4 separate regions of the Homo sapiens genome follow, and regions 1, 2 and 3 are each linked to region 4. Evidence: fine-mapped expression QTL. A gene starts in region 4. Each other region holds a variant in brackets. All regions are shown on one strand. Distances are from middle to middle.

Region 1 (8,174 bases), 75 kb before region 4:
CAATTCTCAAGCCTCCGCCTCCCAAATAGCTGGGACTACCAGCACACGCCACCACACCTGGCTAATTTTTTGTATTTTTTTAGTAGAGATGGGGTTTCACCATGTTGGCCAAGGTGGTCTAGAACTCCTGACCTCAAGTGATCCACCCACCTCAGCTTCCCAAAATGCTGGGATTACAGGCATGAGTCACCTTGCCTGGCCTCATCATTATTAATAATTAAAGAACATGGAATCAACCCAAATGCCCATCAGTGATAGACTGGACAAAGAAAATGTGGTATATATACACCATGGAATACTATGCAGCCATAAAAAAGAACGAGCTCATGTCCTTTGCAGGGACATGGATGGAGCTGGAAGCCATTATCCTCAGCAAATTAACACAGGAACAGAAAGCCTAACACTGTATGTTCTCACTTATAAGTGGGAGCTGAACAATGAAAACACATGGACACAGGCAGAGAAACAACACACACTGGGGCCTTTTGAGGCAAGGGGGAGGGACAGCATCAGGAAAAATAGCTAATGCATGTGGGGCTTAACATCTAGGTGATGGGTCGATAGGTGCAGCAAACCACCATGGCACACATTTACCTATGTTAACAAACCTGTACGTCCTGCACATGTATCCCAGAACTGAAAATAAAACAAAATTTAAAAATAATAATAATAATTAAGGAAGCACAAATTTAACCACAATGAGATACCATTAAACGATCCTTAGAATGGCTACAATTAAAAAGACTGACAATACCAGAGTCATTGCACTCCCAGACGGGAGTGCAATGGCACGATCTCGGCTCACTGCAGTTTAAATAAATGAAACATTTAAAAAGTTATATTTAGGCCGGGCGTGGTGGCTTACACCTGTAATCCCAGCACTTTGGGAGGACAAAGCAGGTGGATCACTTGAGGTCAGGAGTTCAAGACCAACCTGGGTAACATGGTGAAACCCCATCTCTACTAAAAACACAAAAATTAGCCGGGTGTGGTGGCACACACCTATAATCCCAGCTACTCAGGAAGCTGAGGCAGGAGAATCGCTTAAACCTAGGAGGTGAAGGCTGCACTGAGCCGAGATTGTACCACTGCACTCCAGCCTGCGTGACAGAGCAGGACATCATCTCAAAACAACAACAAAAAAATTATTTGATTTATAAAAGTACAGCTATTACATGTTTCTGTTTGCCCTAATAGTGTTTTCTGAAATTGTGATATATATTATTTCTTAAAATATTTTTATTTTTTCTCAAATATACTTTTATATTTGCTCTTTATAACAAAAAGTTAAACATTAAAATGTTTAAAAGGGCCATGGTCAGGTACAGTGGCTCACACCTGTAGTCCCAACACTTTGGGAGGTTGAAGCAAGAGGATCACTTGAGCCCAGGAATTTGAGACCAACCCGGGCAACAAAGTGAGACCCTGTTTCTACAAAGAACAGAAAAATTAGCCAGATGTGGAGGTGCACACCTGTGGTCCCAGCTACAGGGGAGGCTGAGGCAGGAGGATCCCTTGAGCCCAGGAGGTCAAGGCTGTAGTCAGCCTTATTCATGCCACTGCATTCCATCCTGGGCAACAGAGCGAGACCCTCTCTTAAAAAATAATAATAATAAAAATAGCCAGGCACGGTGGCTCATGCTTGTAATCCCAGCACTTTGGGAGGCCAAAGTGGGTGGATAACGAGGTCAGGAGTTTGAGACGAGCCTGACCAACATGGAGAAACCCCGTCTCTACTAAAAATACAAAAATTAGCCAGGCGTGGTGGCGCGCACCTGTAATCCTAGCTACACAGGAGGCTGAGGCAGGAGAATCGCTTGAACCCAGGAGGCAGAGGTTGCAGTGAGCTGAGACCATGCCACTGCACTCCAGCCTAGGTGACAGAGCAAGACTCCATCTCAAAAAAAATAATAATAATTAATAAATAAAATAAAATTATTGCAATAAATATCTGACAGAGATTGTTGTTTGTGTGTGTGTGTGTATATATATCTTTACACACTTTCACTAATATTTTTAAGATAAAAATTTAAACATAAGGTGCTAGTGAAACTGCCCTTGCAAAAATTATAACTGAGAAAATTATCACGGTGAAAGGGACCTGACCTAACTGAATCTATCTTGCTTCTAACCTCCAAGCTATCTTTGCTCATTCCTGGGCATAGGGTGAACTAACTTTGAGAGGAAATTACTTTATAGTTTAACTCTAAAACAAGACAATAAAACTCTTTCCCAAAACAAACCGCTTCTTGCCTGAGGAATAGACACCCTTCACATAACTAACAATTAGCTACAAGATTAGAAATTATGGCTTAGGAGTCATTCAGCTGAAGGTTGCAAGATTCTGAACCTCCCCAAATCGCTCCCAGGGATAATATCACTTTTGTAAAGCTTAATATCAGTGCTTGAGATATTTTGCCTATTCTGCACTCAGTGGATCAGCTGGCACCACCCACATAGATAAACTGCCTCATCCAGTCTTGTGGCCCCTACCTAGGAACTGACTCAGCAAAAGAGGTCAGCTTTGACTCCCTATGATTTCATCTCCAACCCGGCCAATCAGCACTCCCCAATTTCTGACCCCTTACCCACCAAATTCTCCTTAAAAACCCCAATCCTGGAGTTTTCGGGAAGATTGATTTGAGTAATAACTCCATCTCCCATATGGTGTGGCCAGCCTCCCATCAATAAAATTCTTTCTTTACTGCAATGCCATGGTCTTTATTTGTGCAGCAGGCAGGAAGAACCCATCAGATGGTTACACTGGGTCAAAGGATATGCACTTAAAGTGTTTATAGATGATTCCAAGTTTTCCCCAAAAATGGCTGCACTAATTTATGCCCTTTTCTGCCTTACTTCTATGTCGACATTGAAAAATATTTGCCAGTATATGAAGGAGGGGGAGGAGGAGGAGAAGAAAAAGAAATTTGATACAATATGATACAGAGAAATACTATCTTGCTTCATTTTACATTTCTTTATTAAAAAGATTTAATCTTTCATATTTTTCCTATCTAATGGGGCTTACATTTTTTCTTTTTTGAGTTGCCTATTCATATTCTTTGCTCTCTTTCTACAGAGCTGTTTCTATGTTTCGTTTCTTTTCTTTTCTTTTCTTTTTTCTGAGATGGAGTCTTGCTCTTGTTGTCCAGGCTGGAGTGCGGTGGCACCATCTCAGCTCACCGCAACCTCCACTTCTCGGGTTCAAGCGATTCTCCTGCCTCAGCCTCCTGAGTAGCTGGGATTACAGGCACGTGCCACCATGCCTGGCTAATTTTGTATTTTTAGTAGAGATGGGATTTCTCCATGTTGGTCAGGGTGGTCTTGAACTCCCGACCTCAGGTGATTCACCCGCCTCAGCCTCCCAAAGTGCTGGGATTACAGGTGTGAGCCACCGTGCCTGGCCAGTGTTTGTATGTTTCTTGTTGATTTTAGGAGTACTTTATCTTTTAAGTACTTTTTAGGTAAATATTTGCAAATATTTTCATCCAGCCTACGGTTTTTCTTTTAACTTTTCATTTTAATGTGGTTTACAGTGTTCAGCTTTTTGTTTCCTTGTGCTTTATTTTTGGTCATATCATTTTATAATCAAAATGTTTAATGTGTGCTATTGGTCACAAGAAGGACTTAGTGATAGTGTGAATCTATCAGTGTAAGAATTCCCCACATGTAGAAAAACTGCAAATGTGTAGATCCTAATGAGGCTGGCCAGAAGCAAAGCCATTCTCATGAAGCAAA[G/T]AATTATAGCTATTTTCCTGCTCTAAATAACCTAGGTATCATTTAGTGAAGTCTACAGAATTCTAATTTTAAGTAGAGAAACTCTCCGGGAATGTTTAACCGATATTCACATCATGTTTACAGAATTCTGAATGGAATTTCTTAGCACGTATTCAACCAAGGGAATCGAAAAATAAGGCACTCATGCTATCACCACCATCACTACCCCATTTCTTTACTCATTGTAGAAACTGCTAATTGATCACTCTTTCTTCCAGAGCCCAGATGTGGCCTAAAAGGTTTTCTCTATGAATCAGTAGAGTAAGCTGTTACCAACAGTTTGGGATTAGCACATAAGACAAAACCTGTTTTGCCACCCTGGTTCTAGCCCAATATTTCATAGTTAGAGGAAGAAATGAAGGGCCAGGTTGAGACTGTGACTTAACACGGGATCATGCAGCAAGTTAGTTGTAAAGCCGCAGCTCAAAACCAGCCTCCTGCTGCCCACTCTAACGCTCCTTCCAGGGCATGACTATGTCCTGCCTCTTCCGCCACCCCCAGAGGTGGCCCCTCATAGAATATGTGGTAAGGTCCCTTACAAAGAGTAAATTATACATAGAAACATTTTAGTCACAATGTATATGTCAATAACATCCTAATAGGGTTAAAGCTGGATTAGGAAGGGCCTTGTTGGGCAATTGATGGGGGTACCAATCTGTAAGGGGCCCTGAAACACATGACAAACATGAGGAAGTGGAGAACTTGTCTCAGGGAAAGCTCTGTATGGAATTGAATAAAATATGGAATAAAGTTGTTGCAGAAGGAGTGAGGAAGAAGAGTTGCCTCAAGGAGCAGGCCCAGTACCAACACAGAGTCACTAAGCAGCTAGTCTGATGAACTTTTTCTTTGGTGAGTGGAACAATAATACATTATTGGGGGCCAGAAGCAGTGGCTCACACCTGTAATCCCAACACTTTGAGAGGCTGAGGTGGGAGGATCGCTTGAGGCCAGGAGTTTGAGACCAGCCTCAGAAACATCGTGAGACACCATCTCTACAAAAAATTTTAAAAATTAGCTGGAAATAGTGGCACATGCCAGTAGTCATAGCTACTTGGGAAGCTGAGGACTGCTTGATCCCAGGAGCTTGAGTTTACAGTAATCATAGCTCAAGCTGTGATCGCTCCAATGCACTCTAGCCTGGGTGACAGAATGAGACTCTGTCTCTTAAAAAATTAAATAAATAATTGGGAATAATAAAAGAGAAACTAAAGATTGACAAAAGCGAGCCTCCTCCTCCATCCTTCTCCATGCATGCACCACTTCTCCTCTAAACTAACATTGACAAGTATCTAAGGACTATCAATTTAGAGTATCACCACATTATTAACCTACTGAGCACCAAATTGCTAGTTCTCAGAGGCACATGGCATGTCTCCAGCCAGCTTTATTTACTCCCACCCTAAACTCTTCCATCTTGCCTCCTCTAAAAAGGCTTCCTGCCGGGCGCGGTGGCTCACACCTGTAATCCCAGCACTTTGGGAGGCCGAGGCAGGTGGATCACAAGGTCAGGGGTTCGAGACCAGTCTGGGCAACATGGTGAAACTCCATCTCTACTAAAAATACAAAAGTTAGCCGGGTGTGGTGGCAAGTGCCTGTAATCCCAGCTACTCGGGAGGCTGAGGCAGGAGAATCGCTTGAACCCGGGAAGGCAGAGGTTGCAGTGAGCCGAGTTTGCTCCATTGCACTCCAGCCAGGGCAACAGAGTGAAGCTCCATCTCAGAAAAAATAATAATAAAAATAAAATAAAGGCTTCTTGGGCCTGGCATGGTGGCTCACACCTGTAATCCCAGCACTTTGGGAGGCCAAGGTGGGAAGATCACCTGAGGTCAGGAGTTCGAGACCAGCCTAGCCAACACAGTGAAACCCCGTTTCTACTAAAAATACAAATATTGTTTTTCCTCCCTGACGCCGCCGAGGTCACACACGTGAGGCCTCTCCACCACCGCCCCAATGCGGTACATCGCCTCCTAATTGCTGGCTGCCCTCGGGGGTAACCCCTCCCCCAGCAACAAGGACATCAAGAAGATCCTGGACAGCGTGGGCATCGAGACGGACAATGACCGGCTCAACAAGGTTATTAGTGAGCTGAATGGAAAAAACATTGAAGACGTCATTGCCAAGAGTATTAGCAAGCTTGCCAATGTACCTGCTGGTGGGGCTGTGGCCGTCTCTGCTGCCCCAGGCTCTGCAGCCCCTGCAGCTGGTTCCACCCCCTGCTGCAGCAGAGGAGAAGAAAGATGAGAAAGAGGAGTCTGAAGAGTAAAACGATGACATGGGATTTGGCCTCTTTGGTTAAACTCCTGCTCCCCTCCAAATAAAGCCTTTTACACATCTCTCAAGTTAAAAAAAAAAAAATTAGCCCAGCATATAGTGGGCACCTGTAATCCCAGCTACTCAGGAGGCTGAGTGGGGAGAATTGTTTGAACCTGGGAGGTAGAGGTTGCAGTGAGCCGAGATCACGCCATTGCACTCCAGCCTGGGAGACGGAGGGAGACTCCGTCTCAAAAAAAAAAAGAAAAAAGGCTTCCTGGACAGCTGCCCTGCCCGTGCTACCTATTTCTTTTTTTGCTTATCATCTGCACCCTGACTAGGCCCTGGGACCATGCCAGCTGTTATTGGCAAGCGTCTCTCTATGGAAGTACAACCTGCTTCTTCTTCACAGGCATAAACTGTGCCTTTTCCTCTTTCATGTCATGCAGCACGTGGTTAACACAATCTTGTTCAAAAAGCATTTATTAAATGGCAAAAAGAATACTATGGTAACTTATGGGCTTGACTTTCAAAGGATCCATGGAGACCTTGGAAGCAAGCTTCAAGGCCTATCTCATTGGCTCCTCTACTATTCATGAAAGGATTCTGCTTAGAGAGGTGTTTTTTTGTTGTTGTTTTTTGTTTTTGTCACCCAAGCCAGAGTGCAGTGAGGCACTCTCAGCTCACTGCAACCTCTGCCTCCCAGGTTCAAGTGATTCTCATGCCTCAGCCTCCCAAGTAGCTGCGATTATAGGCATGCACCACCATGCCCAGCTAATTTTTGCATTTTTTTGTAGAGACGGGGTTTCACCAGTGTTGGCCAGGCTGGTCTCAAACTCTTGACCTCAAGCCATCTGCCTGCCTTGGCCACCCAAAGTGCTAGGATTACAGGCGTGAGCCACCATTCCCACCCAAGAGGCATCATTTTGAATTGCTGCTATGGTTTGAATGTGTCCCTCAAAGCTCATGTTTTGGAAACTAAATGCCTAGTGCAGCAGTGTTGACAGGTGGGAACTTAGAGGTAATTAGATCATGAGAGCCCCTCATTAATGAATTAATGCTGATATTGTGGGAGTGGTTTCCTGATAAAAGGATGAGTTTAGCCCCTTCCCCCCATGTCTCTCTCCCTATCATCTCCCTCCCTTCCTCCCCCTTCTTCCCCTCTCCCTCCCTCTCTTGCTCTTCTGCCACATGCCATGGAATGATGCCACAAGAAGAACCTCATTGCTATTAGACTTCCCAGCCTTCAGAACTGAGAGAATTTTTTTTGTTTTGTTTTTTTGTTTTGCCGAGACAGGGTCTCCTTCTGTCACCCAGGCTGGAATAATGCAGTGGGGCAATCATGGCTCACTGCAGCCTCAACCTCCTGGGCTCAACTGATCTGCCCGCCTCAGCCTCCTGAGCAGCTGGGAATACAGGCATGCACCACCATGTCCACCTAATTTTTGTATTTTTTTTTTTTTTTTTTTTTTGAGACGGAGTCTCGCTCTGTCGCCCAGGCTGGAGTGCAGTGGCGGGATCTCGGCTCACTGCAAGCTCCGCCTCCCGGGTTCACGCCATTCTCCTGCCTCAGCCTCCCAAGTAGCTGGGACTACAGGCGCCCGCCACTACGCCCGGCTAATTTTTTGTATTTTTTTGTAGAGAGGGTGTTTCGCCATGTTGCCCAGGTTGGTCTCAAACTCCTGGGCTCAAGTGATCCACCCCCCTCAGCCTCCCAAAGTGCTGGGACTACAGGTGTGAGCCACCCCATGGAGAAATTTCTTTATAAATTATCCAGTCAGTGGTATTCTGCTGTTGCAACACAAAATGCACTAAAACAATCGCCTTAGCTGTTCTTATTTTGCAACCGATTCCCATTTAATCATAGTATTATAGATATGTAACATGTACTTCTACCTCCCCTCATGCCTAAGGCTCATAGCAATTTGTAGTGAGGCCCACATGGAATTTATTTATCCTCTATCTTGAAGGCTGAAATAGGGGACAAAGGTAGGAAAGAAATAAAAGTGGGGCAGAAATAAGGGAAGGATGCGGTGAATGCTGATGTGAGTTCACTGATAAACGCTAAACTTTATTTAGAAGACTGGCTCTGGCCAGGCACAGTGGCTCATGCATGTAATTCCAGCACTTTGGGAGACCAAGGCAGG
Region 2 (8,174 bases), 63 kb before region 4:
ACCCCTTTCCAATAACTTTCACCTTGATATTCCTCATTCTCTGGCACTGAGGAGGCTTCATATTATGTGAACTGGTAGCCTGCTTTGTCAAAGTGGCCCAAGGATACTGGTTGCAAAGCCTTGCCCTGAGAGAATGTTGCCAGCTCAAGATGCTGGTGAAATTCTTGCTGGCAGGACCAGCTCCTGACAGAACAGCTCTGCACTGGCTTCCCCACCCTTTTGGCCTTTCTCTAACCTTTCCTGAAAAAGGTGGGGCTGATAACAGGTAGTCCAAGCCCTACAAAGCTCTCTGCCCCCCTTAAGTCTCTGGAGTTCTTATAACAATAAGGTGTGGTGGTTGAGAACAAGGCTCTAGTCTCTGCCACTTTACTAGCTTTGTATCCTCTCAAAGTTATTTTTTAACCCCAGTTTCCTCATCTATGAACGTGGGATCGTGATATTTAGTGCAGAGTTGCAAGAAGCAATAAATGAGCCACTGGGACATGGTAAGGGCTCAATAAATATGATACTTTAATAGCAGTAGTGGTGTGGGTTTCTCTTCTCAAAGTCGTGGGTGAATTCAAGCCCTCAGGCCTACTCTATGACACCCACAAAAAATAAATACAAAAGAACAAAAAGAAAAGGAAACAATGAAAAAACAAACTTCAAATTGCCTTATTCTCTTATTTGCCCTTGGTTGCATTCTAAAACCTCTATCTCCACCCAGTTTCAGTGTCCTTTTGCTGCCCTGTTTTAACCAGAAATCTATACCATCCCATTGACCTTGGCTCAGAATGCCCTCCCACATGCACCCTGGCACACAACATTTAAATCCTGCCTCCCATTACATCAAACTCCCACTGTCTCTGTGGCTTTGGTCAGCAGACACACTGGACCGGCCCTGGGTACTGGCACATCACACTGCTACCTTCAAAGGATGATTTGAGGAGGGCAAGAAGAACATGTACTTCCAAGGATCTCCCCCACTGGTCTGCTGCAGAGCCTTTCTTTTTTCCTCACTGGCCTAAAATGCCCAGTGTGAAACCTCCAGTTCAAGCGACATTGTCCCCCATAAGCTACTATAGAGATGTTCATTTATCACATGGGCAGCAAAGAAAGCCACTTCACTTACTAGGGAACCAGTAAGCCATCAATTCCCCAAAATTGGTGAGACCGGTGCATTGAAAAGGGAGCCAGGTGAAGGAACTGGGCTTTGGGATGGGGAAGTTTTGATGGGACCACAGGGAGAAAACATTTTACTTCATGAAAATCAAGCAGCTCTCCAACCATAACTAGTGGGGAAGAATGAGGGCTCAACAGCTAGGAGCTTAGAAAGTAAGATGTCCAAGGTTGTAGGGCAGAGCCAGGGAAGGTCAACTTCTCCCACTTTCCCTTCGCGTTGCCCAGGCCCTGCCTTCCAGAACCAGAAGGCAGCAGCTGTCTGGCTGGATATGCATATTCATGGTTGCTGCAGACAGAGAGGCGTGAATATTTTAAACCTATGTTTTCTGTTTCTGTCATGAGCTTGAAATCTTTTGCAGCCAAATTGTAGAAGGCAGGAAGTTTGAAGGGAAAAATCATTAGCTTCTTGGGCTTAAAGAGCCATAAACTTTTTTCATCTGCAGGGACTGTGGGGTAATCGATATCTAGGGAAAGGGGTAGGGAATACTACATGTGAGGTTTTTGTCATGCCCCTGTGGTGGGTCACCTTATATGGAAAAAGAACCAAGGGTAGGAAGAACAATAGTAAATGCAGATAGAACAGAACAACACAAGCTTTTAAAATTTTTCCAGTTCAGGTATGTGTGTGTGTGTGTGTATATATATGTGTGCGTATATATATATGCATGTGTGTGTATAGATATATATATGTGTGTGTGTGTGTATATATGTGTGTGTGTATATATATGTGTGTGTGTATATATGTGTGCATATATATATATGCGTGTGTGTATAGATATATATGTGTGTGTGTGTGTGTGTGTATATATATTGAGATGGAGTCTTGCTCTTGTTGCCCAGGCTAGAGTGTAGTGGCATGATCTCGGCTCAATGCAACCTCCACCTCCCAGGTTCAAGCGATTCTGCTGCCTCAGCCTCCTGAGTAGCTGGGATTACAGACATCCGCCACCACGCCTAGCTAATGTTTGTACTTTTAGTGGAGATGGGGTTTCGCCATGTTGGCCAGGCTGGTCTCAAACTCCTGACCTCAGGTGATCAGCCCACCTCGGCCTCCCAAAGTGCTGGGACTACAGGCATGAGCCACCGCACCCGGCCTAAAGTTTCTCCAGTTCTTAAGTCATTACTTTATGTTAGCTGAAGCCTTGAATTATCAAACATAATTTTTATTGACTTCCACGAATGCCATTAACATTTGGCTTATTCCTCCCCAATGCTTCCACACCTAAAAATAAAAAGAAAATAAGACAGGCAGATATATTAGGATAACAACCCTCCTTGACTCCCAAAATCTCAGTGGCTTGAGAGATAAAAGTACCTCTGAAGGAAATTAAAATATTTTACCCCATCTGGACATGATGGCTCCTGCCTGTAATCCCAGCACTTTGGGAGGCTGAGGTAGGAGGATCACTTGAGCCCGGAGTTCAAGACCAGACTGGGCAACATAATGAGACCCCCGTCTCTATGAAAATATGTATATATAAGAAAAAATATTTTATGCCTAATTATATTTCTTTTTTTTCTTTTGAGATGAAGTCTCGCTCTTGTCCCCCAGGCTGGAGTGCAATGGTGCGATTTCGGCTCACTGCAACTTCTGCCTCCTGGATTCAAGCGATTCTCCTGCCTCGGCTCCCCGGAATAGCTGGGATTACAGGCACCTGCCACCACGCCCAGCTAATTTTTGTATTTTTAGTAGAAACGGGGTTTCACCATGTTGGCCAGGCTCGTCTAGAATTCCTGACCTGCAGTGATCCACCTGCCTCGGCCTCCCAAAGTGCTGGGATTACAGGCGTGAGCCACCGCGCCCAGCCGCCCAATTATATTTCTATGACATATTTTGAAATGGCTGTGGCTTGGCCATCCTGACAGAAGTGGCCTTGAAAAGCTGTCTTAAGTGGGGACATTTTCAATCTGTATGGAGTCTACAAGAATGCAGCCTGTCCTCCCCTTCCTATCCCTTTCGCCAGACACAGAAGAGATTGAGAGTCTGACATCTTTAAAAGTCTAAAAAGAAATCTTTCACATCTATTCTCTCTGAGGGAGGCTTCATTTACATAACAAGGCCACCTTTGCTAGCCAAGCCTCTACTCCCCCTCCTATAAACTTTTTTATCAGAACCTAAGCCCTTATTATTTCTGTAATCTCAAAATGGTATATATATTTCTGTAAATCATTGCAAACTTGGGTCTTCATTCTGAAGGCTCCTGTGTATACACATTACATACATTTGTATGCCTCTTCTCCTATTAACCAATCCACCTCATATCAGTGATTTTTACCAAACCTTTAGAGGGCCAAGAACCTATGGCTCCCACACTTCTCATTTCATCGAAGTCCAAGTGGGATGCCATCACTCAGGTGCTTGTATCCTTCCAGCGGATTCTCTATATGGAACCAGCCAATAAGGGAGAAAGAAGGAGCATAAAGAAGGCTCTCCTGTACTTGACCAGATGTGACTCAACATTGAAACCACCTGCATAAAAATTATACCAGTGAGAGAATTATCGCATTGGTGGGGGGCTGTCATTTAGCCAAGCCCCCTCTTGCCTTTAGCCTTCAAGCTGCCCTTAATTATTCCTGGACTTAAGCCAAGCTGACTTTGGGAGACATTTCATTTATAGTTTAAATGATAATCACCCTTCCCCAAAACTCAACTGCCTTTATAAA[C/G]CTAATGAGAGACTACCAGGCTAGGAGGATAGAGGAGCTTGAATTCTGCTGAGGTGTAAATTGTTGCTGCTGTTATTCCAGAAGTGAAAAGATATGTGACTTCCCCAATTACTCCTGCAAATAACATCACTATCGTAGAATGTAAGATTGACTTTTTGAGATGTCTTTTCCGGGCCGGGTGCAGTGGCTTACTCCTGTAATCCCAGCACTTTGGGAGGCCGAGGCAGGCGGATCACGAGGTCTAGAGTTTGAGACTCAGCCTGGCCAACATGGTGGATCCCCCTCTCTACTAAAACTACAAAAATTAGCTGGGTGTGGTGGCATACTTCTGTAATCCCAGCCACTCGGGAGGCTGAGACAGGAGGCAGAGGTTGCAGTGAGCTGAGACCACACCATTGCACTCCAACCTGGGTGTCAGACTCCATCTCAAAACAAGGAAAAAAAAAACTAAACAAATGTATTTTCCAGTTTTTTACAAGTCTGACATCGATGGCTCCATCTGGACCTGCCAACCACTCCTGTGGCCCCACCCAGAAGCAACTCAGCACACAGGAGGACAATTTTCCACACCCCAATGATTGAATCCCCAACCAATCAGCAGCAAGCCCCAGTTGTCTATCCACCTCCACCCCTTTCCCCAAACCATCTTTGAAAAACCTCTAACCTGGCAGAGAGTGGTGCCTCACACCTGTAATCCCAGCATTTTGGGAGGCCGAGGCGGGTGGATCACCTGAGGTAAGGAGTTGAAGACCAGCCTGGCCAACATGCTGAAACCCCGTCTCTACTAAAAATACAAAAATTAGCCGGGCATGATGTCCAGTGCTTGTAATACCAGCTAGTCGGGTGGCTGAGGCGGGAGAATCACTTGAACCTGGGAGGCGGAGTTTGCAGTGAGACGAGATTGCGCCACTGCACTCCAGCCTGGGCAACTGAGCAAAACTCCGTCTCAAAAAAAAAAAAAAAGAAAAAAGAAAAGGAAAACCCCTAACTTCCAAACATTGGAGGAGATTGATTAGAATAATAATAAAACCTTGGTCTCCTGTTCAGCCAGCTCTGCATGAATTAAACTCTTTGTCCATTGCAATTTCCCTGCTTTGATAAATCAGCTCCATCTGGGCAGCAGGCAAGAAGAACCCATTGAGCTGTTACATCATCATTGCAGCTTACATTACATTGTGGGTAGCTACTCTGTGGTCCAAACTTAATGCAAAGGGGCTGGAAAAACATAATCCAGCTGTGTGCTGAAAGTGGATTGGTGAAAAGAAAATGGATTGGCAAGCACCTGGTCTCTCCCACAGCAAATGACATTAACTTTGGCAGCTAGTCAGTTTCACATTTGGTTTTTCTCTTCATTGGCACAATATATAATGCAGACATGGCTGGATTGAGCAAGATTGATGTTCGCAGGAGCCAGATAAATCATCTTCCTCTAGATTGGCAGATATTTGGCAGTTTGCTGTCACTTCTTATTTCCTGACCGTAGCAGTTACAGCTAATTAATCGTGACACTCCTTCCCTATAACTGCAGTCACAGTCACATAATCCTTCTCAGTATGGAGCTGTGGACAGTCAGAACCAATGGATCAAAGTCAGCATACAATACAAACCTACTGGCATCTCGATTCTCTTTATCCCTTACATTTTATAGGTGAGGAAACTGAAACCTAAGGAAGTAGAATAATTTGATCATTGACAAAGTTATAGTGAGTTCCTATAAGGGAGGAGACCACCCCTCATATCATCTTATGCCCAATTTCTGCCTCCAAAGAAAGAAGAAGTAAAAACTAAAAGGCAGAAATGAAATCCACAGGCAGACAGCCCGGTGCCGCACCCTGGGCCTGGTAGTTAAAGATCGACCCCTGATCTAATCAGTTATGTTATCTATAGATTACAGACATTGTATAGAAATGCACTGTGAAAATCCCTATCCTGTTTTGTTCTGATCTAATTACCGGTGCATGCAGCCCGCAGTCACGTACCCACTGCTTGCTCAATCAATCATGACCCTCTCACACGCACCCCCTTAGAGTTGTGAGCCTTTAAAAGGGACAGGAATTGCTCACTTGGGGGGCTCAGCTCTTGAGACAGGAGTCTTGCCGATGCCCCCGGCTGAATAAACCCCTTCCTTCTTTAACTCGGTGTCTGAGGAGTTTTGTCTGCGGCTTGTCCTGCTACACCTACTATACACTAGACACTCTGCTACGCTCAGGCAATGTTACTTTAAACAAGACACACCCTTTCCTTCAGGAAGTTAAGGGAGAAAAGGAAGTCAGGTTGTTAGAGTAGGCAGTCAGGCAGATATGAGCAGGGCAGGAGAGCGCCCAGCCCATCAACCACCACCATCAGATGATGGTGAGGCAGTTGTTAAACTGTTTCTCTAACGTAGTAATTAGCTGCAGCTGGTGGCAGGGAAAAGCAGTCTCGCAATACATAGAAAACACCTGAAGCTGGTGATCAGCCACTTCCCCTGATAAGATCTCAGGAGTTGGGCGAGTGGGCTCAAATATGTGCACTAAGAGGCAAAAGGGTGGAGTTTAACTGGTATATGACCTTCCTCTGGGAACACTCAACTAGTTAGGAAGAATGCCTCAAGTGAGGCAGTGCACAACTTCAGTAAACACGCTGAGCATGTGGCCCCTCCCAAGTGCTGGCAGGCCACTGTGTATGCAGACAGCCTACCCCCGGGGAAGAATCAGAGAAGAGACACGAGAACCCAGAAGCATGCCAGTATATAAAACCCCAAGTCAAAAGTCAAACCATGGACTTGAATCTCTTAAGTCGCTCGCTTGGCCCTCTTCCACATGTACTTCACTTTCTTTTGTTCCTGCTCTAAAATTTTTTAATAAGCTTTCACTCCTGCTCTAAAACTTCCCTCGGTTTCTCCCTCTGCCTTGTGCCCTTCGGTCAAATTTTATCTTCTGAGGTATGGATTTGCTGCTGCTGACAAGATGAGTGGACAGGAAATTACAATACAGCATAACAAGTGGAAAGAAGAGACGAAGGCAAGATGCTATGAGAGAACATTGAAAACACCTTTGTGAAAATTGTAACGGTGAGAATATTATGACAGTCACAGAGATCTGACCTAACTGACTCCATCTTGCCTCTAATCTCCAAGCTATCCTTGTTCATTCCTGGGCATAGGCCAAACTAACTTTGGGAGGAACTTAGTTCATAGTGTAACTCTGAAACAAAGATAACACCCCTTTTCTGAAACAAACCCCCTTCTTGCCTGGGGACCAGACTGCCTTTGTAGGACTAACAAATTAGCCACAAGATTAGAAATTATGGTTTAGGAATTATGCAGCCACAGGCCACAACATTCCAAACCTCCCTAATTGCTCCCAGGGATAACAGCACTATTGTAAAACCTAAGATCAGTGCTCTAGGTACTTTTCAGACCCTGCATTTTGATGCAGCAGAGGGCGCCACCCAGACCAGTAAACCGACTCATCTGGTCTTGTGGCCTCTACTCAAAAACTGACTCAGCACAAGAGGACAGCCTTGACTTCCTATGATTTTTGTCTCCCACCCAACCAATCAGCACTCCCCACTCCCTGGCTCCCTACCCACAAAATTATCCTTTAAAATCCTCAGTCTCTGAATTGTCAGGGAGACTGATTTGAGTAATAATAAAACTCTGGTCTCCCATTCAACCGGCTCTGTGTGAATTAAAGTCTTTCTATATTGCAATTCCTGTCTTGATAAATTGTCTGTATCTGGCCAGTGGCAAATTAACCTGTTGGGTGGCTGCATGACAGTGGTAAATAAAAAGAATTATTTTGATCCTGATAAGGAACACTTTATTCAAAAGACTACTGTAATGGGGTTTTGTAGTAGGGGAGGGAGATTGGGCACAACTCCAAATACAACAACAACAACAAAAAAATGGGGATTTTGGCCAAGAAGCAGGGCAGAGGCATGAATGGATGGGAAATCACTAGGAGGGTAGGATAATTCTTGCTAAATTAGCCTAACAGGATTCTTGCTAAAGGCAGGCCAGGGTGATCAGATATCAAGGGTGAGGATTCTCTGTAAACTTACTGTCTTAGTTGATTTTGTGTTGCTATAACAGAATACCACAGACTGGGTAAGTTATAAAGAAAAGAAATAGCTGGGTGCAGTGGCTCACACTTGTAATCCCAGCACTTTGGGAGGTTGAGGCAGGAGGATTGCTTGAGCCTAAGGGTTCAAGACTAGCCCGGGCAACATAGTGAGACCTTGTCTCTACTAAAAATAAAAAATTAGCCAGGCATTGTGGCACACACCTGTGGTCCCAGCTACTCAGGGAGCTGAGGTGGGAGGATTGCTTGAGACCAGGAGGTCAAGGCTGCAGTGAGCCATGATTA
Region 3 (8,174 bases), 22 kb before region 4:
TCTAAGTAGGTGGTTGTCTGATCGCCATGAACGTCCTTTGGCACCTAGTATGCCATTTACATCATGAGTAGTCCAGACAGTGAGTTTCTTTCCTTGTACTATCTTGATAGCCTCTGACACTAAGACAGCCACCACTGCAACTACCCATAGTGAGGCCAGCCTTTTGCTACTACATCACTTTCCTTACTTAGATATGCCACTGGTTGTGGGGTTGTCCCCCGAGTCTGAGTAAGGACTCCAAGAGCTATCCCTGCTCTCTCTGTGACGTACAAAGAGAAGTTTTCTCCTGTGGGAAGGCTTAAATCTGGAGCTAGTACTAGGACCTGCTTTAAGGTTTTGAAGGCTGTTTTTTCCCCTGGTTCCCATTCTACTAGATGAGTATTTGCCCTCTGGGTTTCCTTGATTAGAGTATAGAGGTGCCTGGCTATCTGGCTGTATCCAGGGATCCATAGTCAGCAAAAGCCAGTGATTCCAGGGAACCCCCACAACTGTGTTAATGTCTTAGGGAAAGGACAAGCCAGTTTAGGCTGTGTTCATTCCTTGCTGAGGGCCCTGATCCCTCTGGCTAAGATTAGGCCTAGATATTTGACCTGCTGTAGGCAAAGCTGGGCCTTTGACCTAGACACCTTGTACCCTTGATTAGCGAGAAAGTTCAAGAGATCTAGAGTAGCCTGCTGGCATGAGGCTTCCAAACTGGTAGCCAAAAGTAAATCATCCACATACTGAAGGACCAGAGTGCCTGGACTTGAGAAGTGGCCTAGATCTTGGGCCAGTGCCTGGACTTGAGAATTGGCCTAGATATTGGGCCAGTGCCTGACCAAACAGGTGAGGGCTATCCCTAAACACTTGGGGCAAGACCATCCATGTAAGTTGGGATGTGTTTTCTGTGGGATCCTCTAAGGCAAAGAGAAACTGGGAGTCAGAGTGCAGAGGAATACAGAAGAAGGCATCCTTGAGTCCCAGAACCATGAACCATTCTGCTTCCTCTGGTATTTGAGAGAGCAGGGTATAAGGGTTGGGTACAACTGGATATAGAGGAATTACTGCCTCACTGATGAGTCTAAGATCTTGCACTAGTCTCCACTGACTGTTTGGTTTTTGTACTCCTAGAATTGGGATGTTGCAGGGACTGCTGCATTTCCTTACTAAGCCTTGAGTTTTTAAATGTTTAACAATATCCTGTAATCCTTTATGAGCTTCAGGTCTTAAGGGATATTGACTTTGATAAGGAAAAGTGGTGGGATCTTTTAGCCTGATTTGGACTGGGCAGCATTTTTTGCCCTTCCAAATTGTCCTTCCAATGCCCAGACTTCAGGGTTGATTCCCTCTTCAAACAGGGGACAACAAATGAATAACTTGTTCTCCATATTCATGTAGATAATAGCTCCAGCCTTGGCTAATATATCCCTCCCTAATAAGGGTTTGGGACTTTCAAGCATAACAAGTAAGGCATGTGAAAAGAGCAAAGTCTCCCAATTACAACTGAGGAGGTGGGAGAAATACCTGGTTACAGGCTGTCCCAGGATTCCTCAGATGGTAATGGACCTTGAGGACAGCCATCCAGGACAGGCAGTTAACACTGAGAAGGCCGCACCAGTGTCAAGGAGGAAGTCAATTTCCTGGCCCTTAATGGTTAAACGTAGCTGGGCTCATTGAGGGTGATGACATGAGCTGGCGCTTGCCCCAGGCACCCTCAATCCTGTTGTTGGATCATCTGGTTGGGGGCTTCTGACCCAGAGAACCTTTGTCCTCTGGGGCAGTGTACCTTCCAGTGATTGCCTTGGCATAGTGGACATGGATGAGGGGGCGGCTTGTTTCTCATTGGACAATCTTTTTTTAAGTGTCCTTGCAAACCACACTGGTAACAAGCCCTACAGGGTGATTGGCCTGCTCCATTTTCTGTCCTCTGTGAACCACCAAGGTTTGATTATCTGAGGGCCATGACTAAGGCTGTGGCCTTTCTCTGATCTTGCTTTTCCTTTTGGGCCTGTTCCTCTTGGTCCCTATTATAGAATACCGGGGTTGCCAGGTTTAATAATGCCTCCAAATTTTGTTCAGGGCCCAGGGCTTGCTTTTGGAGCTTTCTCCTGATATCTGTGACTGATTGGGTAATAAACTTATCTTTTAGAATCAATTGACCCTCGAGTGATTCAGGTGACTCGGGAGTATATTTCCTTAAGACCTCTCATAGCCACTCAAGGAAGGCAGAAGGATTTTCTTCCTTTCCCTGAGTTATGGTGGACATCATTGAATAATTCATGGGCTTTTTCCTAATTCTCCTTAGTCCTTCTAGAACACAGGTCAACAGATGTTTACAACTCCAGTCCCCGTGGTCTGCATCAAGGTCTCAGTGGGGATCCATACTGGGGATGGCTTGCTGACCGGAAGGGAATTTATCCCTTTCTTCAGCTGTCATTCTATCATTTACTTAACTAAGATACCAGGTATCTCCAAACTCTTGGGCTACAGCTAAAGCCGCATTCTTTTCATTAAAGGCCAGGGTTTGATCTAACAGTAGCATGACATCTCTCCAAGCAAGGTCGAAGGTTTGCCCTAGACCCTGTAGGACATCTATGTACCTATCAGGATCATCTGAAAACTTCCCCAGGTCTGCCTTGATCTTCTTTAAATCAGAGAGGGAGAAGGGGACATGTACCCGGGTTGGGCCAAATTCCCCTCCCCCGACAGCTTGAAGGGGACATAACAAATAGCCTGAGGATTCTTGTGGTCCTTTGGAGATTTCTTTGCTTATTTCTTTCTGGGCAGGAGAGATTAGAGGAGGATTATCATTAATAGGAAGGGGAGCTATAGGAAGGCTAGGATATGGGGGTAAGCTGAGAGGTCCTCCTGTGGGATGTAAATTGCAAGCTTTGCGTAGTTGTGTATTCTCCCTCAATGAAAAGGAGGCTTGGACATAAGGTATTTGACTCCATTTGCCTTTCCTCTTACAGAAAAGGTCAAACTGCAGGATAGTATTGTAATTTGTACTTCCCTCAGGTGGCCATTTTTCCCCATCAGAGAGAATATTGAGGCCAAGCCGTAGTGCAGAAAAAAATGAGCTGCCTCTTTTTCAGGGTTTGCAGGTCAAATTGGTCCCAATGGCTTAGGATGCATTTCAAGGGTGAGCCTGTTGATGCCTGAGTGTTTCCCATCTGAAAGACAAAAACTGCCTGCGGTTTTGATTTGTTTTTTTCTCCCCCTGCCCAAGAACCTGCAATGGTCCCTGGCCCCTGCTGATCAGAATAGTTGTGCTCACTGACAGCAGCAGAAACAACCCCTGCCCAAGAACCCGCAACGGTCCCTGGACCCTGCTGATTGGAATAATTGCTCTCACCAACGCAGCAGCAGAAACACTAGTCTTCCTCCCAGACCACAAGGAGAACCGAGGAAGGTCGGATTTAGTGGCCCTTACTGATGCATTCTTGAAAACCTGCACCCTTGCCTGTCCTCCTAGACCACAAAGAGGACCAAGAAAAATCGGATTTAGTGGCTAACCTTACTGATGCAGTCTCGAAAACCTGTTAGAGTCCTAAGCATTCTACTGTTAGTATTGGGACCTTACCCATGTCCTATAAAGATGTTATGCCCATAAAATGAAGTGGAGGGCCATGCCCTGAGGGAGGGAAGAGTTGGAAGAGTGATGCCAACCCAGAGTTGGAAGAGTGATGCCTTTTGTCCTCACTTATATGAATA[G/A]TGAGGAAGGATACAATTTCTGAGGCTCCCCATATCCTAGCTTCAGGAATAGCTTTTGTTAGGCCTACTTGTCTGAGGAGGGATCCTAAAATTCCAGATAGTACCCCCAACGAGTCTTTGGCCAAAAATTTTGTCTTTCTGATTGGTGAGCCCGGGTGTCTAAAGAAGGTAACAGAGTCCTGGAGTTTATACTAGAAATCATTCTTATAGAAGAAACTAGAAAAGCACCAGAGACAGGGAGCGATTTTTAGAAGCAGGACTAGCCTCGGAGAAGAGAGGCGAGAGGAAGTTTGTCTGGCAGGCATTAGGACACAGAGGGCAAGGATCAGGATAGGTAGGATAGATGGGCGAGTCTCGCTTGGGCAACATGCCTTTGAGAGTTCCACTCATGGCCACAGGCTCAACCAACTTGTTGTCAGGACCCCAGAGCTGAATGGCTTTCCTCTCTGTCAACCCTCAGCTCAGCCCTGAAGTACAGGAAAAGCAGAAGCTGGTTCCAGGCAAACCAACACTCCCAACGCCGAAGAGTCGGGGGTTTTTAGAGAAAGCCCTTTCCCAGGAAGCCTGACACCCATGTCTTTAGTCCAGCGGCTAAACTAGTCGCTTTTAACTGGCCGACAGGTGCCCAGCATTTAGCCCCCGAATTCTAAGGAAAAGTAGGACAGAATAGCAAGTGAAAGGGGTCCGATGGTACTCACTGCTTGGCGATAGGTGACAGTCTCACTGCTCAGCCATAGGCAATGGTCTCACCGCTTGGCGATAGTCCCATCTGGTCGCCAAAATGTGTCTGGAATTGGTGGATTCTTGGTCTCACTGACTTCAAGAATGAAGCTGCAGACCCTGTTGGTGAGTGTTACGGCTCTTAAGGCAGCACATCTAGAGTTGTTCATTCCTCCTGTCCAGAGTTGTTCATTCCTCCCGGTGGGTTCGAGGTCTCGCTGGCCTCAGGAGTGAAGCTGCAGACCTTCGCAGTGAGTGTTACAGCTCATACAAGAAGTGTGGACCCAAAGAGTGAGCAGCAGCCAGATTTATTGCAAAGAGTGAAAGAACAAAGCTTCCACAGTGTGGAAACGGACCTGGGTGGGTTGCCACTGCTGCCTCGGGCAGCCTGCTTTTATTCCCTTATCTGGCCCCACCCACATCCTGCTGAATGGTCCATTTTACAGAGAGCTGATTGGTCCGTTTTACAGAGAGTGGATTGGTCTGTTTTACAGAGAGCTGATTGGTCCGTTTTGACAGGGTGCTGATTGGTGCGTTTACAATCCCTGAGCTAGACACAGAGCACTGATTGGTCCATTTACAACCCTCTAGCTAGACACAGAGTGCTGATTGGTGCATTTGCAAACCTTGAGCTAGACACAGAGTGCTGATTGGTGCGTTTACAAACCTTGAGCTAGACACAGAGTACTGATTAGTGCATTTACAATCCTCCAGCTACATGTAAAAGTTCTCCAAGACCCCACGTGACTCAGGACCCAGCTGGCTTCGCCTAGTGGATCCCACACCGAGGCCGCAGGTGGAGCTGCCCGCCAGTCCTGTGCCACACGCCTGCACTCTTCAGCCCTTGGGTGGTCGATGGGATTGGGCACCATGGAGCAGGGGGTGGCACCTGTTGGGGAGGCTCAGGCCACGTGAGATCCCCCCGTTCAGGGGGCTCGGGCATGGCAGGCTGCAGGTCCCGAGCCCTGCCCCGCAGGGAGGCAGCTGAGGCCCAGCGAGAATTTGAGCATGGCACAGGTGGGCCGGCAGTGCTGGGGGACCCGGTGCCCCCTCCTCAGCTGCTGGCCCGGGTGCTAAGGACCTCACTGCCTGGGGCCAGCTGGCAGCTCTGAGTGCGGGGCCTGCTGAGCCCATGCCCACCCGGAACTTGCGCTGGCCCGTGAGCATGCCCGCACCTCTCCCTCCACACCTACCCGCAAGCAGAGGGAGCTGGCTCTGGCCTCAGCCAGCCCAGAGAGGGGCAGTGGTAGGCTGAAAGGCTCCTCAAGCATGGCCAGAGTGGATGCCAAGGCAGAGGAGGCACTGAGAGCAATCGAGGGCTGCTAACACATTGTCACCTCTCACTAGCACTTTGAGAGACCAAGGCAGATGGATTGCCTGAGCTCAGGAGTTCAAGACCAGCCTGGGCAACACGGTGAAACCCTGTCTCTACTAAAACACATAAACAAATAGCCAGGTGTGGTGGTGTATGTGTGTAATCCCAGCTACTTGGGAGGCTGAGGCAGGAGAATCGCTTAAACCTGGGAGGTGGAGGTTGCAGTGTGCAGAGATTGCACCACTGCACTCCAGCCTGGGTGACAAAGCAAGACTGTGTCTCAAAAAAAAAAAAAGAAATGTAGGGGTAAATCTTCAGGACCTCACATTAGGCAATAGTTTTATTCATTCATTCATTCATTCATTCATTCATTTAAATAGAGATGGGGCCAGGCGCTGTGGCTCATGCCTGTAATCCTAGCACTTTGGGAGGCCAAGGCAGGCAGATTACTTGAGCTCAGGAGTTCGAGACCAGCCTGACCAACATAGTGAAATGCCATCTTTACTAAAAATACAAAAATTTGCTGGGTGTGGTGGTGTGCATCTGTAGTTCCAGCTACTTGGGAAGCTGAGGCAGAAGAATTGCTTGAACTCGGGAGGCGGAGGTTGCAGCAAGCCAATATCTCATCACCGCACTCCAGCCTGGGCAAAAGAGCAGGACTCTGTCTCATAAATAAATAAGGCAGAGGGTGCAATGGCTCACACCTATAATCACTGTACTTTGGGAGGCAGAGACGGGTGGATCACCTGAGGTTGGGGGTTCAAGACCAACCTGACCAACATGGAGAAACCCTGTCTCTACCAAAAATATAAAATTAGCTGGGTGTGGTGGCAGGTGCTTGTAATCCCAGCTACTCGGGAGGCTGAGGCAGGAGAATCACTTGAACCTGGGAGGCAGAGGTTGCAGTGAGCTGAGATCACACCATTGCACTCCAGCCTACGTAACAAGAGCAAAAAAAAAAAAAAGTACAAATGGCAAATAAGCACATAAAAAGATATTCAACATCACTAACCAACAGGGAAACATAAATAAAAAAAAAATGAGATACTACTTCATACCTAACAATAAAAAAGACAGATGATAGTAAGTTCTCTTTTCTCTTTTTCTTTTTTTTTTTTTAAACCTCATGATGCAACAGTAGATAATACATTGTAACCAGGATGTGGAGAAATTAAAACCCTCATACATTGCTGGGAAGAATGTAAAATGGTAATGCCGCTTTGTAAATCAGTCTGGCAGCTACTCAGAAACTTAAATATAGACTCCAGAGGCTGAGGTAGGAGGATTGCTTGAACCCAGGAGTTTGAGGCCAGCCTGGACAACATAGCAAGCGCTTGTCTCTAAAAAACAAACAAGCAAAAACACAGAGTTACCATGTGACCTATCAGTTCCATTTATAGGTATATACTCAAGAGGATTGAAAACATTTCTGCAGAAAAATTTGTATACAAGTGTTCAGAGCAGCATTATTCATAGTAGCCAAAAAGTAGAACCCAAAAGTATATCAATGGCTGCATGGGCTGGGCATGGTGGCTCGTGCCTATAATCCCAGCACTTTGGAGGCTGAAGCAAAAAGATTGCTTGAGGTCAGGAGTTCAAGACCAGCTTAGGCAACATAGCCAGAATATTTTTTAGAGACCTTGTTTCTAAAACAAAATTTTTTTAATTAGCCAGTTGTGGTGCTGGTGTGGGCCTTTAGTCCTAGGAGTACTGAGAAGTTGAAGTGGGAGGATCGCTTGAGTCCAGGATTTTGAAGCTGCAAATGAGCTATTATTGCCCCACTGCACTCCAGCTTGGGTAACAGAGCTAGGCCCTGTCTGTAAAAAAAATTTTTTAATGAAATAAAATAAAATCTGTTGCATGGGACAGGGCACAGTGGCTCATGCCTATAATCCCAACACTTTGGGAGGTCGAGGTGGGTGGATCACTTGAGATCAGGAGTTTGAGACCAGGCTGGGCAACCTGGTAAAACCCTGTCTCTACTAAAAATACCAAAAAAAAAAAAAAAATTTAACCGGGCGCAATGGCAGAGGTCTGTAGTCCCAGCTACTTGGGAGGCTGAGGCAGGAGAATTGCTTGAACCCAGGAGGTAGAGGCTGCAGTGAGCCGAGACTGCACCACTGCACTGCAGCCTGGGTGATGGAGTGAGACTCCATCTCAAAAAAAAAAAAAAGATTCATGGGCCGGGCACGGTGGCTCACGCCTGTAATCCCAGCACTTTGGGAGGCCAAGGCGGGCGGATCACGAGGTCAGGAGATCGAGACCATCCTGACTAACACGGTGAAACCCCATCTCTACTAAAAATACAAAGAATTAGCTGGGTGCAGTGGCAGGTACCTGTAGTCCCAGCTACTGGGGAGGCTGAGGCAGGAGAATGGTGTGAACCCGGGAGGCGGAGCTTGCAGTGAGCCAAGATGGTGCCACTGCACTCCAGCCTGGGTGACAG
Region 4 (8,174 bases):
AAGGAAGAGAAGGAAGGAAGGAAGATTGGGTAGGAAGAGTATCTGATTGCAGCAAGGCTTTGAGGAAATCTGGGCCAAGTCGATGGGAAGCCCAGGTCAATGATTGCCCGGTGAAGGAGTCCAGCACTGGGCAGAAATGGCCTGGCTCCAGCACACCTTTCTCAGTCATTGCTGGGAATAGCCCTACAGAGAGTATGCCGTTGGCATAAATGATCCCAGAGGAAGACAGCAGGAAGCTGTCAGTCAACCACACTCCTTGCAACTGGTTCTCTTGAAAGTAGGTCTGAATGGTGCTTTTCCATGGCTGCCATACCCATGTACCATGAATTAAACTCCCCCAAGGGAACTCTAGGGAGGTGACCGCATGAAATAAGCAGTCAGTGTCCATTGTCTACACTGCTTCTCACAACACACATCATTAACATAACTGAGTATATATGTATATATATATTTTTTTTGAGATGAGTTTCGTATGCGATCTCAGCTCACTGCAACCTCCACCTCCCGGGTTCAAGCGATTCTCCTGCCTCAGCCCCCCGAGTAACTGGGATTACAGGCATGCGCCACCACGCCCAGCTAATTTTGTATTTTTAGTAGAGACAGGGTTTCTTCATATTGGTCAGGCTGGTCTCGAACTCCCGACCTCCGGTGATCCACCCACCTTGGCCTCTCAAAGTGCTGGGATTACAGGCGTGAGCCACCACATCCGGCCTTTTTTTTTTTTTTTTCCTTCAAAACGTGTGTTGGTTTGGCCTTACTAAAAGTGTCAGCTCATTTAGTAAAAAATATATGTTTTCCTGAAGAAGAGTGGGTGGAGCATTTTCTCATTTATTTTTCTACCATGAACATATTTGAATTGCCACAAAGAAGTTACTATGGAAACTGCTCTCGAACTTGCAAGATAAAAGGTAAAAATGGAACACTTTGTTGAAATGCAAATAGTCTCTGGAGATCACTTTTTAACAAAGTCTCCGGGTCTGATTTTTCTGAGTCCTTTAAAGGCTCTCTTGAATTAGAAGCGGACAGGCAGATTTTTTGGCTTTACATTCCAGATGGCTCCAGCTGACTGTGCAAATGTCACAGGTGACAACTCTAGGATGGGTCTAGACGTATGCAAACTTGGTTTTGGAATGAGCAAAGAGGCTGACAGTGCCCTGCTGTGAACACCCAAACAGGCCCAGGGGAGGGAAGGTGGTTGTTTCTGGGCCAGGCCCGTTCTGCAGGTGTACTCTGGACTCACTTGTTTGAAAGTTAACTTGCTGAGCTCTTATTTATGCAAAGTAGTTTCTCTTTCTTATCTCCTCTGGCCACATTCCATCTCTGGGATCTTGAGCTGGATAGTCTTTTCAACAAAAAAACACAAACTTCTTATTTGAAAGCCCTATTCCTCTACCCATCTCTGCTCATCTTTACCTGCCTCTCCCCACCCACCTCTCCAACTCACTTCATATCAGCCCAAGTACTCCTACCATTACAAAGCTCTGAGATAACTTTGGATTTCTGCTTGTTGTAATTTTCTGCCTGTCAATTCCTTCAACCTTGCTTCTTTCTCTTGGGGCCTCAATCCGAAAGCCTTACTGAAACTTTTTTCAAAGCTGCTTTCGGTAATTAAGTGAATGCAACTTGGAGAGGGTTTCCTGTAGTCTCAGCTACTTGAGAGACTGAGGTGGGAGGATTGCTTGAGCCCAGGAGTTTCAGATCAGCTGGGGCAACAGAGTGAGACCTCCAGCTCAAAAAAAAAAAAAAAGAAAAAGAAAAAGAAAATAGAAAAGAGGTGGTTTCACTTGAGGGACCAGGGTCCGAGGTTGTTTATTTGGGATTATTGTTACCTAGCTTCATGACTAGCAACCATCAATTTCACTTCTTTGTGAATTGGAGTCTTTATTTGATCCTTTCGAGGGATCCTTCCATTTCAACCTCCTAAGTAGCTGGCCTCACAAGAGTGTGCCCCAACGCCTGGCTTTTTTTTTTTTTTTTTTTTTTTTTTTAAAGACTGGGCTGGCAGGGGGATCTCACTTTGCTGCCCAGGCTGGTCTCAAACTCCTGGGCTCAAGTGATCCTCCTGCCTTGGCCTCCCAGCCTCCCAAAATGCTGGGATAACAGGCGTGAGCCACTGTGCCTGGCCTGTAATGAACTATTGTAGAACCTAAGATTGGCCTTTTAAGACGTCTTTTCAGGCTTTTGCATTTCTGACAAACGGATGACCCCACCCAGACCAGCCACTCCTCTGCTGGCCCTCCATCAAGAAGCCGATTCAGCAAAGGAGAACCATTTTCCATACTCCTCTGATTGCATCCCTAACCAATCAGCAGCACCCATGCCCTAACCCTCTGCTCACCAAACTATCTTTGAAAAACTCTAGCTTCCAAATGTTCAGGAAGATTGATTTGAGTAATAACTCTGTCTCTCAAGTGGCATGGCCAGCCTCATGTCAAACTCTTCACTGCAATGACTTGGTCGCAGTGAATTGACTTTATCTGTAAAGTGGGCAGAAAGAACCCGCTAAGCAATTACACTATATGCAATTATCTTAAATGTTTCCTTGATTATTATATGTTTCTTCCAATTACGTTTGAATTCCAAGAGAGCTGGGTCTTTAACTATATTCCCCACTTCTGGAACATACAAGATGCTCAATAAATATTTGTAGAATGAAAAGAACTGTAAAATTTCAGCAGATGGATCAAATGAAACTTAAGGTTGCTTGTAGCTTTAACATGAGCATTGATAAAAATGAGTAAGTAGAGAAGGAAGTGATGACAACCATTGCAACAAAGCAATGGAAGCAATGTGCATATTTATCCTTAAAAAACACAAACCTGTCATATGTATGTGTATGTGTGCGTGTATATATAATGTTGGCTTTTTAGTTTCCCGTGGAGTGTGAACTGAGTTTCTGAGGTTTATAGTAAAGCATTTAACAAGGATTTCAGGTAGTTGTCTAAATATAAAACATTGTATCATAGAATTAGAGCGGAAAAGGATTTAGAATACAAGTTCTTCAATTTTACAGGGGTGGAAACTAAGGCCTAGAGATCTAAGTGTACTTGGGCATTGGGAAATAAATACAGCGATGTGTCTGTCGATGAGGAATGCGTATGCCAATCATACTTCTGTATAATCATTACTAATAACATAGTAATACTGCCTTACATTTGAAAAGTGTTTGAGTGTGACTAGACCCTGCACCAGTGGTTCTGAAACTTGAGCGTGATCAGAATCACCTAGAGGATTTGTAAAAGCACAGATCGCTGGGCCCCACCTCCAAAATTTCTGGCTCGGTAGGTCTGGGGCCGGGGACTGGGAAAGCTTAAGAGAAACCATCCCAACTCCTCTCAGCTCTCCCAACTCAACCTCTCAGCTCTCCCAACTCAACCGGCCGAGCTCGGCACTCAGGGAAAACTACAAGTCCCGGCGTGCCCCGCGCGCAGCGGCGGAAAGTCGGACACTTCCGCTCCACGCAGCGCCTGTGCTGCCGCGTCTCGACGTGTCACCGGCGGCGCCGCTGCTGTGGCAAAGGAAGGAGCTGACTGGGGGAGTTCGAGGCGGCGGGCGGCGGTGACCCCGGCCTGGAACTGCCCCGGTACGGAAGTGTTCCGGGGTCCGTGGGGAGCAGGAGAGGGAGGCGGCGGACCGTCCCGCGCGGGGCACGATGTTGAACATGTGGAAGGTGCGCGAGCTGGTGGACAAAGCGTGAGTATCGGGGGGCAGTTGTGGCCGAGGCCCACGTGGGGGAGGGGGGAGGGGGAGAAGGAGCTGGCCTTGGGCTAGGGGTTGCCCACGTCACGCCCCCTGGCTCTGCCAGCCCCATCATGGCGGCGGCCCGCTCCTTCCCGGCCCCGGGCCTCATCCCCGCTGGCGAGGCTGGGGAGGGACCCTCCCTCGTTTTAAAAAAAAACATCCTCTTGGCCACCCTTCTCTCCTTTCCAGGCCTTCCCGTCCCTTCCCCTATTCCAACCCCTGGGTGCCGACGCTTTGGTCATAAGGGGCGGGTTGTTTGGCGCTGGGTCACTGCCCTGGCCGGAGGACTGTCTTGGCCCCAGGCCGTGGGCTTTGCCTCCTGGGGAGCAGGGAAGGTTTGGGGGTGGGGGGCACAATGCACTGGTTCCCTGTGTCCCTCAAGGTGTAGTACGGAGAGACCTTAGACCTGGTTGGGGTGTGTCTTTTATCTTCCTTGCCTCCTCTTAATTCCTAATGAACCTGAAGTGTTGGAGTGGGTGGTAGTAGTGTAACAAGTGGCTATTGTGGTCAGCCTGAAGTTACTCAAGAAGACACTCATCCTTTGCTTTTCTAACACTAGTGAAAGTAGATCACTATATGACTTCTTGCGATTTTTTCTTCTGTTTCTTTTTCCACTACACATCATTTTTGGTGTGCTACTTGTTCCATTCGATTAAATTAAGAGGTCATTAAGAAATGTCCTCTTAAGGAAAAAAACAACCCAGGTTTATATCCTGTTGATCTGCTTTTAAAAGCAGGTAAAACGACCAGTACGTAGTTGATTTCCTTTAAGACTGAAATAACTTTAGTCTCTTACTTGCACAAGGAAAACCTTAACTTTTAAAATGAGTATATCAGGTATAACAGTGGTTAAGTAAGGTCTTCTAGGCCAGCAGGAAATAAAGTTTAAGAATTTAAGCAGTCCTCTTCCTTTGGGGCTTTAATGATTATGCAATAAGTGTGGTGAGAAAAACAGTTGATTTGTGCCACCCACCTAACCTAAAATCAGGAAGTATAGATAGCAAACTGTTTTCTTGACACCAGGAAACAAAGTAATTTCCAGTGCCTTGTCTGATACATCAGATAGAACTTAGAGCTTGACCATATTTTTATATTTTCTGTGCTACCAAGAAGGCAATAGAGTGCCTAAGGAGCACAGGTTTCAGAACCTGCAAAGCTGGGTTCAAGCTTTATAACCTTGGGGAAGTTACTTATCCTCACAGTGCCCTAGTTTTCTCTGGTACAAAATGAAAATGCAACGATACCTACCTTAGAATGTTGTTGTGAGGCTTAAGGGTTAAGGGATTGTATTGCATATAAAGCCCTTAACAGAATATGTTTATATTAGTGTACTTTTGAAACTAGCAAATGTTTTGCATTTAGAGTGAAATAAACCTCTTTAAGAAAGAAGCTTCAAGTTTGAAAAGTGATTTGCTTTAATAATTTTCCTTTATAACAACTCATTTGGCTATTAAGGCTTCAGCTATTTATTTCGGACTATTTAGCTATTTATATATTCTTTGCTTTTGCTTACCGAAGATGAAATAAACTAGATCTTTTCCAGATCTAGGTTCATTGGCATTTTTTTAGTATATTGTGTAAAGATTAGGATATCAACTTAAATAGTTTTTTAAAGGCCAAAAGAAGACTAAAAGCTACCTTTTTTTTTTTTTTTTTTGATGGGGTCTCATTCTTTTGTGTGTTCATAACTCACTGCACCCTCCAACTCCTGGGCTCAAGTGATCCTCCCACCTCAGCCTCCCAAGTGGCCAGGACTACAGGCATGCATCACCGTGCCTGGCACTGCCTCCTTATTTCTCAGTCAGAGGTCAGAAGAATAAAACCATTAAGAAACACCTTGTTCTCTTAGAGGACCAAATTTGTGGTACTCAAAAATTTGAAGAGGCTGTACATTGTTCGTAAGACAGAAATCGAGGCAATATTCCTACTATTGTTGTACCTTTCATATTTGCTTATCACACTTGTTACTAATCTTCACGTGCTTTAGGTTAAATTTGCCATGTAAGTAGTTATCTAAAGGAAAAGCTATTGTTGAAAAATATTATCTATCTTTTTACTACCCAATTTAGGATGTAGACTTGAACCAAATTATTCAAGAACATAGAAGAATGTTGTCACCAAAGACTTTTTAAGGCTTTTGTGGGTGTCTGACACATATTAAGATTAGAACATGAGGTTGATTTACTGATGAGTACTCGGGATTTTAATTTTCATCTTTTCACTGGCAAGAAGAGAAGAAATTCTTCCCCCCAAATGTAAGCATCTTACAGAACCGTGGATCTGTTAGACTGTGCACCTTATAATGCCATAATAGACGTGCATCCATAGAATGGTTGGTCTGATTATCAGAGGTATAAAATGATGAAGGAACTTGCAAATGAAGAAGCAGTGACGTGATTAAGGGCTATTCAGATAGATGGATCAATAGAATGAGGGCTTCTATGAGAGAAAGGTTAGGGGTTTAACTATCTGGTTCATATTCTGGCATTACGTTTTTAATTAGCTGTATGTATGATTTGAGGCAGAATCACATGAATCTCCAGACTTTGCCTTCCTTATCTGTAAAATGAGGGGACCTGGCTAGAGTAAGACTTTTTCCACCTTTGATGGCTATTGGAGAAATGCATTTCCATCAAGGAAAAATAGTTGGAACTAGTTTTTACAATAGCAGACAAATTTTGGAGCCATTATCCTCTGTAGACAATTTAGGCTGAAAAGGGAAATTTTCTTAAAAAGTGGTAATCAATAAATGTTATACTTAAATATTTTATGCAATAAATAAGACCATGACTCAGGAAGACTAGGACTTTTAGTGTATATTGATACCCAGTGAGGTTTTACTTCAGAAAAAGAAATGTACTCTGAAAAATGTGTTTCCTGGAGCCACTCTTAGATTCAGTATGGTAGCGGCTCTTAAGTGTAATGATGTATTTCTTTTTTTTTTTTGAGATGGGGTTTCGCTCTTGTTCCCGGGGCTGAAGTGCAGTGGCGAGATCTCAGCTCACTGCAGCTTACACTTCTGGGGTTCAAGCGAGTCTCCTGCCTCAGCCTCCCTAGTAGCTGGAATTACAGGTGCCTGCCACCACACCCAGCTAATCTGTGTATTTTTAGTAGACACGGGGTTTCGCCATGTTGGCCAGGCTGGTCTTGAACTCCTGACCTCAGGTGATCCACCCATCTCAGCTACTCAAAGTGATAATGATGTATTTCAAACACTGGCTTTTGAGACCTTGAAGACTTTTTCTGGAAGTGGGGGTATATTTTCCACAATCGCTGCACCTCCTGGTGGCAGTAGAGGGATTTGTTTTGCAGAACATTGTGGAACTGAGGGAAGCAGATAAAGCCATAGGCCTGCCAGAGCTTGGAATGCCAGTATCTTCCCACTCGTCAAGTTGCATAAAAGGCGATGTGGCAGGAAAGGATAAGTGGCACCATTCCCACCAACTAGGAGCACTAGCTTAATCATTGTCATCCTATGACCTATCTTTACTTGTGGCTGTAATAAAATTGGACATGTTTATATTTTGTCATCCTATACATGGTAAAATTGAAAGTTGCTGCAGTTCTATTTTCTCTCTAGATTTGAGGAATGTAATGAAGGTGACATGGTAGTGGTAGATCAAAACTGCTACTTATTTGTTCAAGCTCAGCGAATCCTTCTCTTTCCTTGCAAGGAGTAATATTAGTGGTAAATCTCTTTCATCAGTGACCCGCCCCCCCCCCCGCCTTTTTTTTTTTTCGGAGACAGTTCACTTTATCCCCCAGGCTGAAGTGCAATGGCGTGATTTCAGCCCACTGCAATCTCTACCTCCCGGGTTCAAATGATTCTCCTGCCTCAGCCTCCCGAGTAGCTGGGATTACAGGCGTCTACCTCCATGCCTGGCTAATTTTTGTATTTTTCATACAGCTGAGGTTTTGCTGTGTTGGCCAGGCTGGTCTCAAACTTGTGACCTCAGGTGATCCACCCACCTCGGCCTCCCAAAGTGCTGGGATTACAGGCATGAGCCACCTTGCCCAGCCTCAGTGGCCCTTTTTTTGATAGTGATTCAAACAGCTCTGGCTAAGGTCCTAAGGCAACAGCTATGGGTAGTCCATTTTAAGTTATTCTCCTAAGCATAGCTTGCATTTTCCCTCATAAGTTGATTTTTATTGATGTATATTTGCTTGGTTTTAGTTCCTAAATGTTTAGATAATGTAATAGAGCTGTAGAAACTGCTGTTCTAGTCTCCTGACTCCAGAGGGAGAAACTTTTGCTTTTATAAAGAATAGTATATTCATTTATTTTAACAGGCAATACATTTGTTATTTATTGGATTAGTAGTCTGGTTTCTTTTTATTTTTTATTTTTGAGACAGGGTCACACTCAGTTGTCCAGGCTGGAGCACAGTGATGCAAACATGCACACTGCAGCTGGGACCACAGCTGCGCCTCCA

What was found. PIP is the estimated chance that this variant, and not a neighbour inherited with it, causes the effect. A credible set is the group of variants that fine-mapping cannot tell apart.
Region 1: its variant is the best candidate, but not a certain one, in a credible set for the expression of CLINT1 in whole blood (TOPMed, PIP 0.50).
Region 2: its variant is the best candidate, but not a certain one, in a credible set for the expression of CLINT1 in lung (TOPMed, PIP 0.89).
Region 3: its variant is the best candidate, but not a certain one, in a credible set for the expression of CLINT1 in whole blood (INTERVAL, PIP 0.64).

The regions. Positions count from the first base shown.
Region 1 is chr5:157,929,117-157,937,290 of GRCh38, reverse strand. It overlaps the pseudogene RPLP2P2. Among named protein-coding and RNA genes, the nearest start is that of CLINT1, 74 kb to the right of the region's middle. The variant G/T (reference allele first, on the strand shown) is at 3,739.
Region 2 is chr5:157,917,208-157,925,381 of GRCh38, reverse strand. No RefSeq gene overlaps it. Among named protein-coding and RNA genes, the nearest start is that of CLINT1, 62 kb to the right of the region's middle. RefSeq lists silencers at 5,573-5,715, 7,228-7,337. The variant C/G (reference allele first, on the strand shown) is at 3,826.
Region 3 is chr5:157,876,731-157,884,904 of GRCh38, reverse strand. No RefSeq gene overlaps it. Among named protein-coding and RNA genes, the nearest start is that of CLINT1, 22 kb to the right of the region's middle. RefSeq lists an enhancer at 2,753-3,398. The variant G/A (reference allele first, on the strand shown) is at 3,694.
Region 4 is chr5:157,854,449-157,862,622 of GRCh38, reverse strand. CLINT1 (clathrin interactor 1) reads left to right here and starts at 3,478. Exons shown (of 12, transcript NM_014666.4): 1 at 3,478-3,693. The coding sequence starts at 3,653. RefSeq lists enhancers at 3,190-3,429, 3,267-3,848.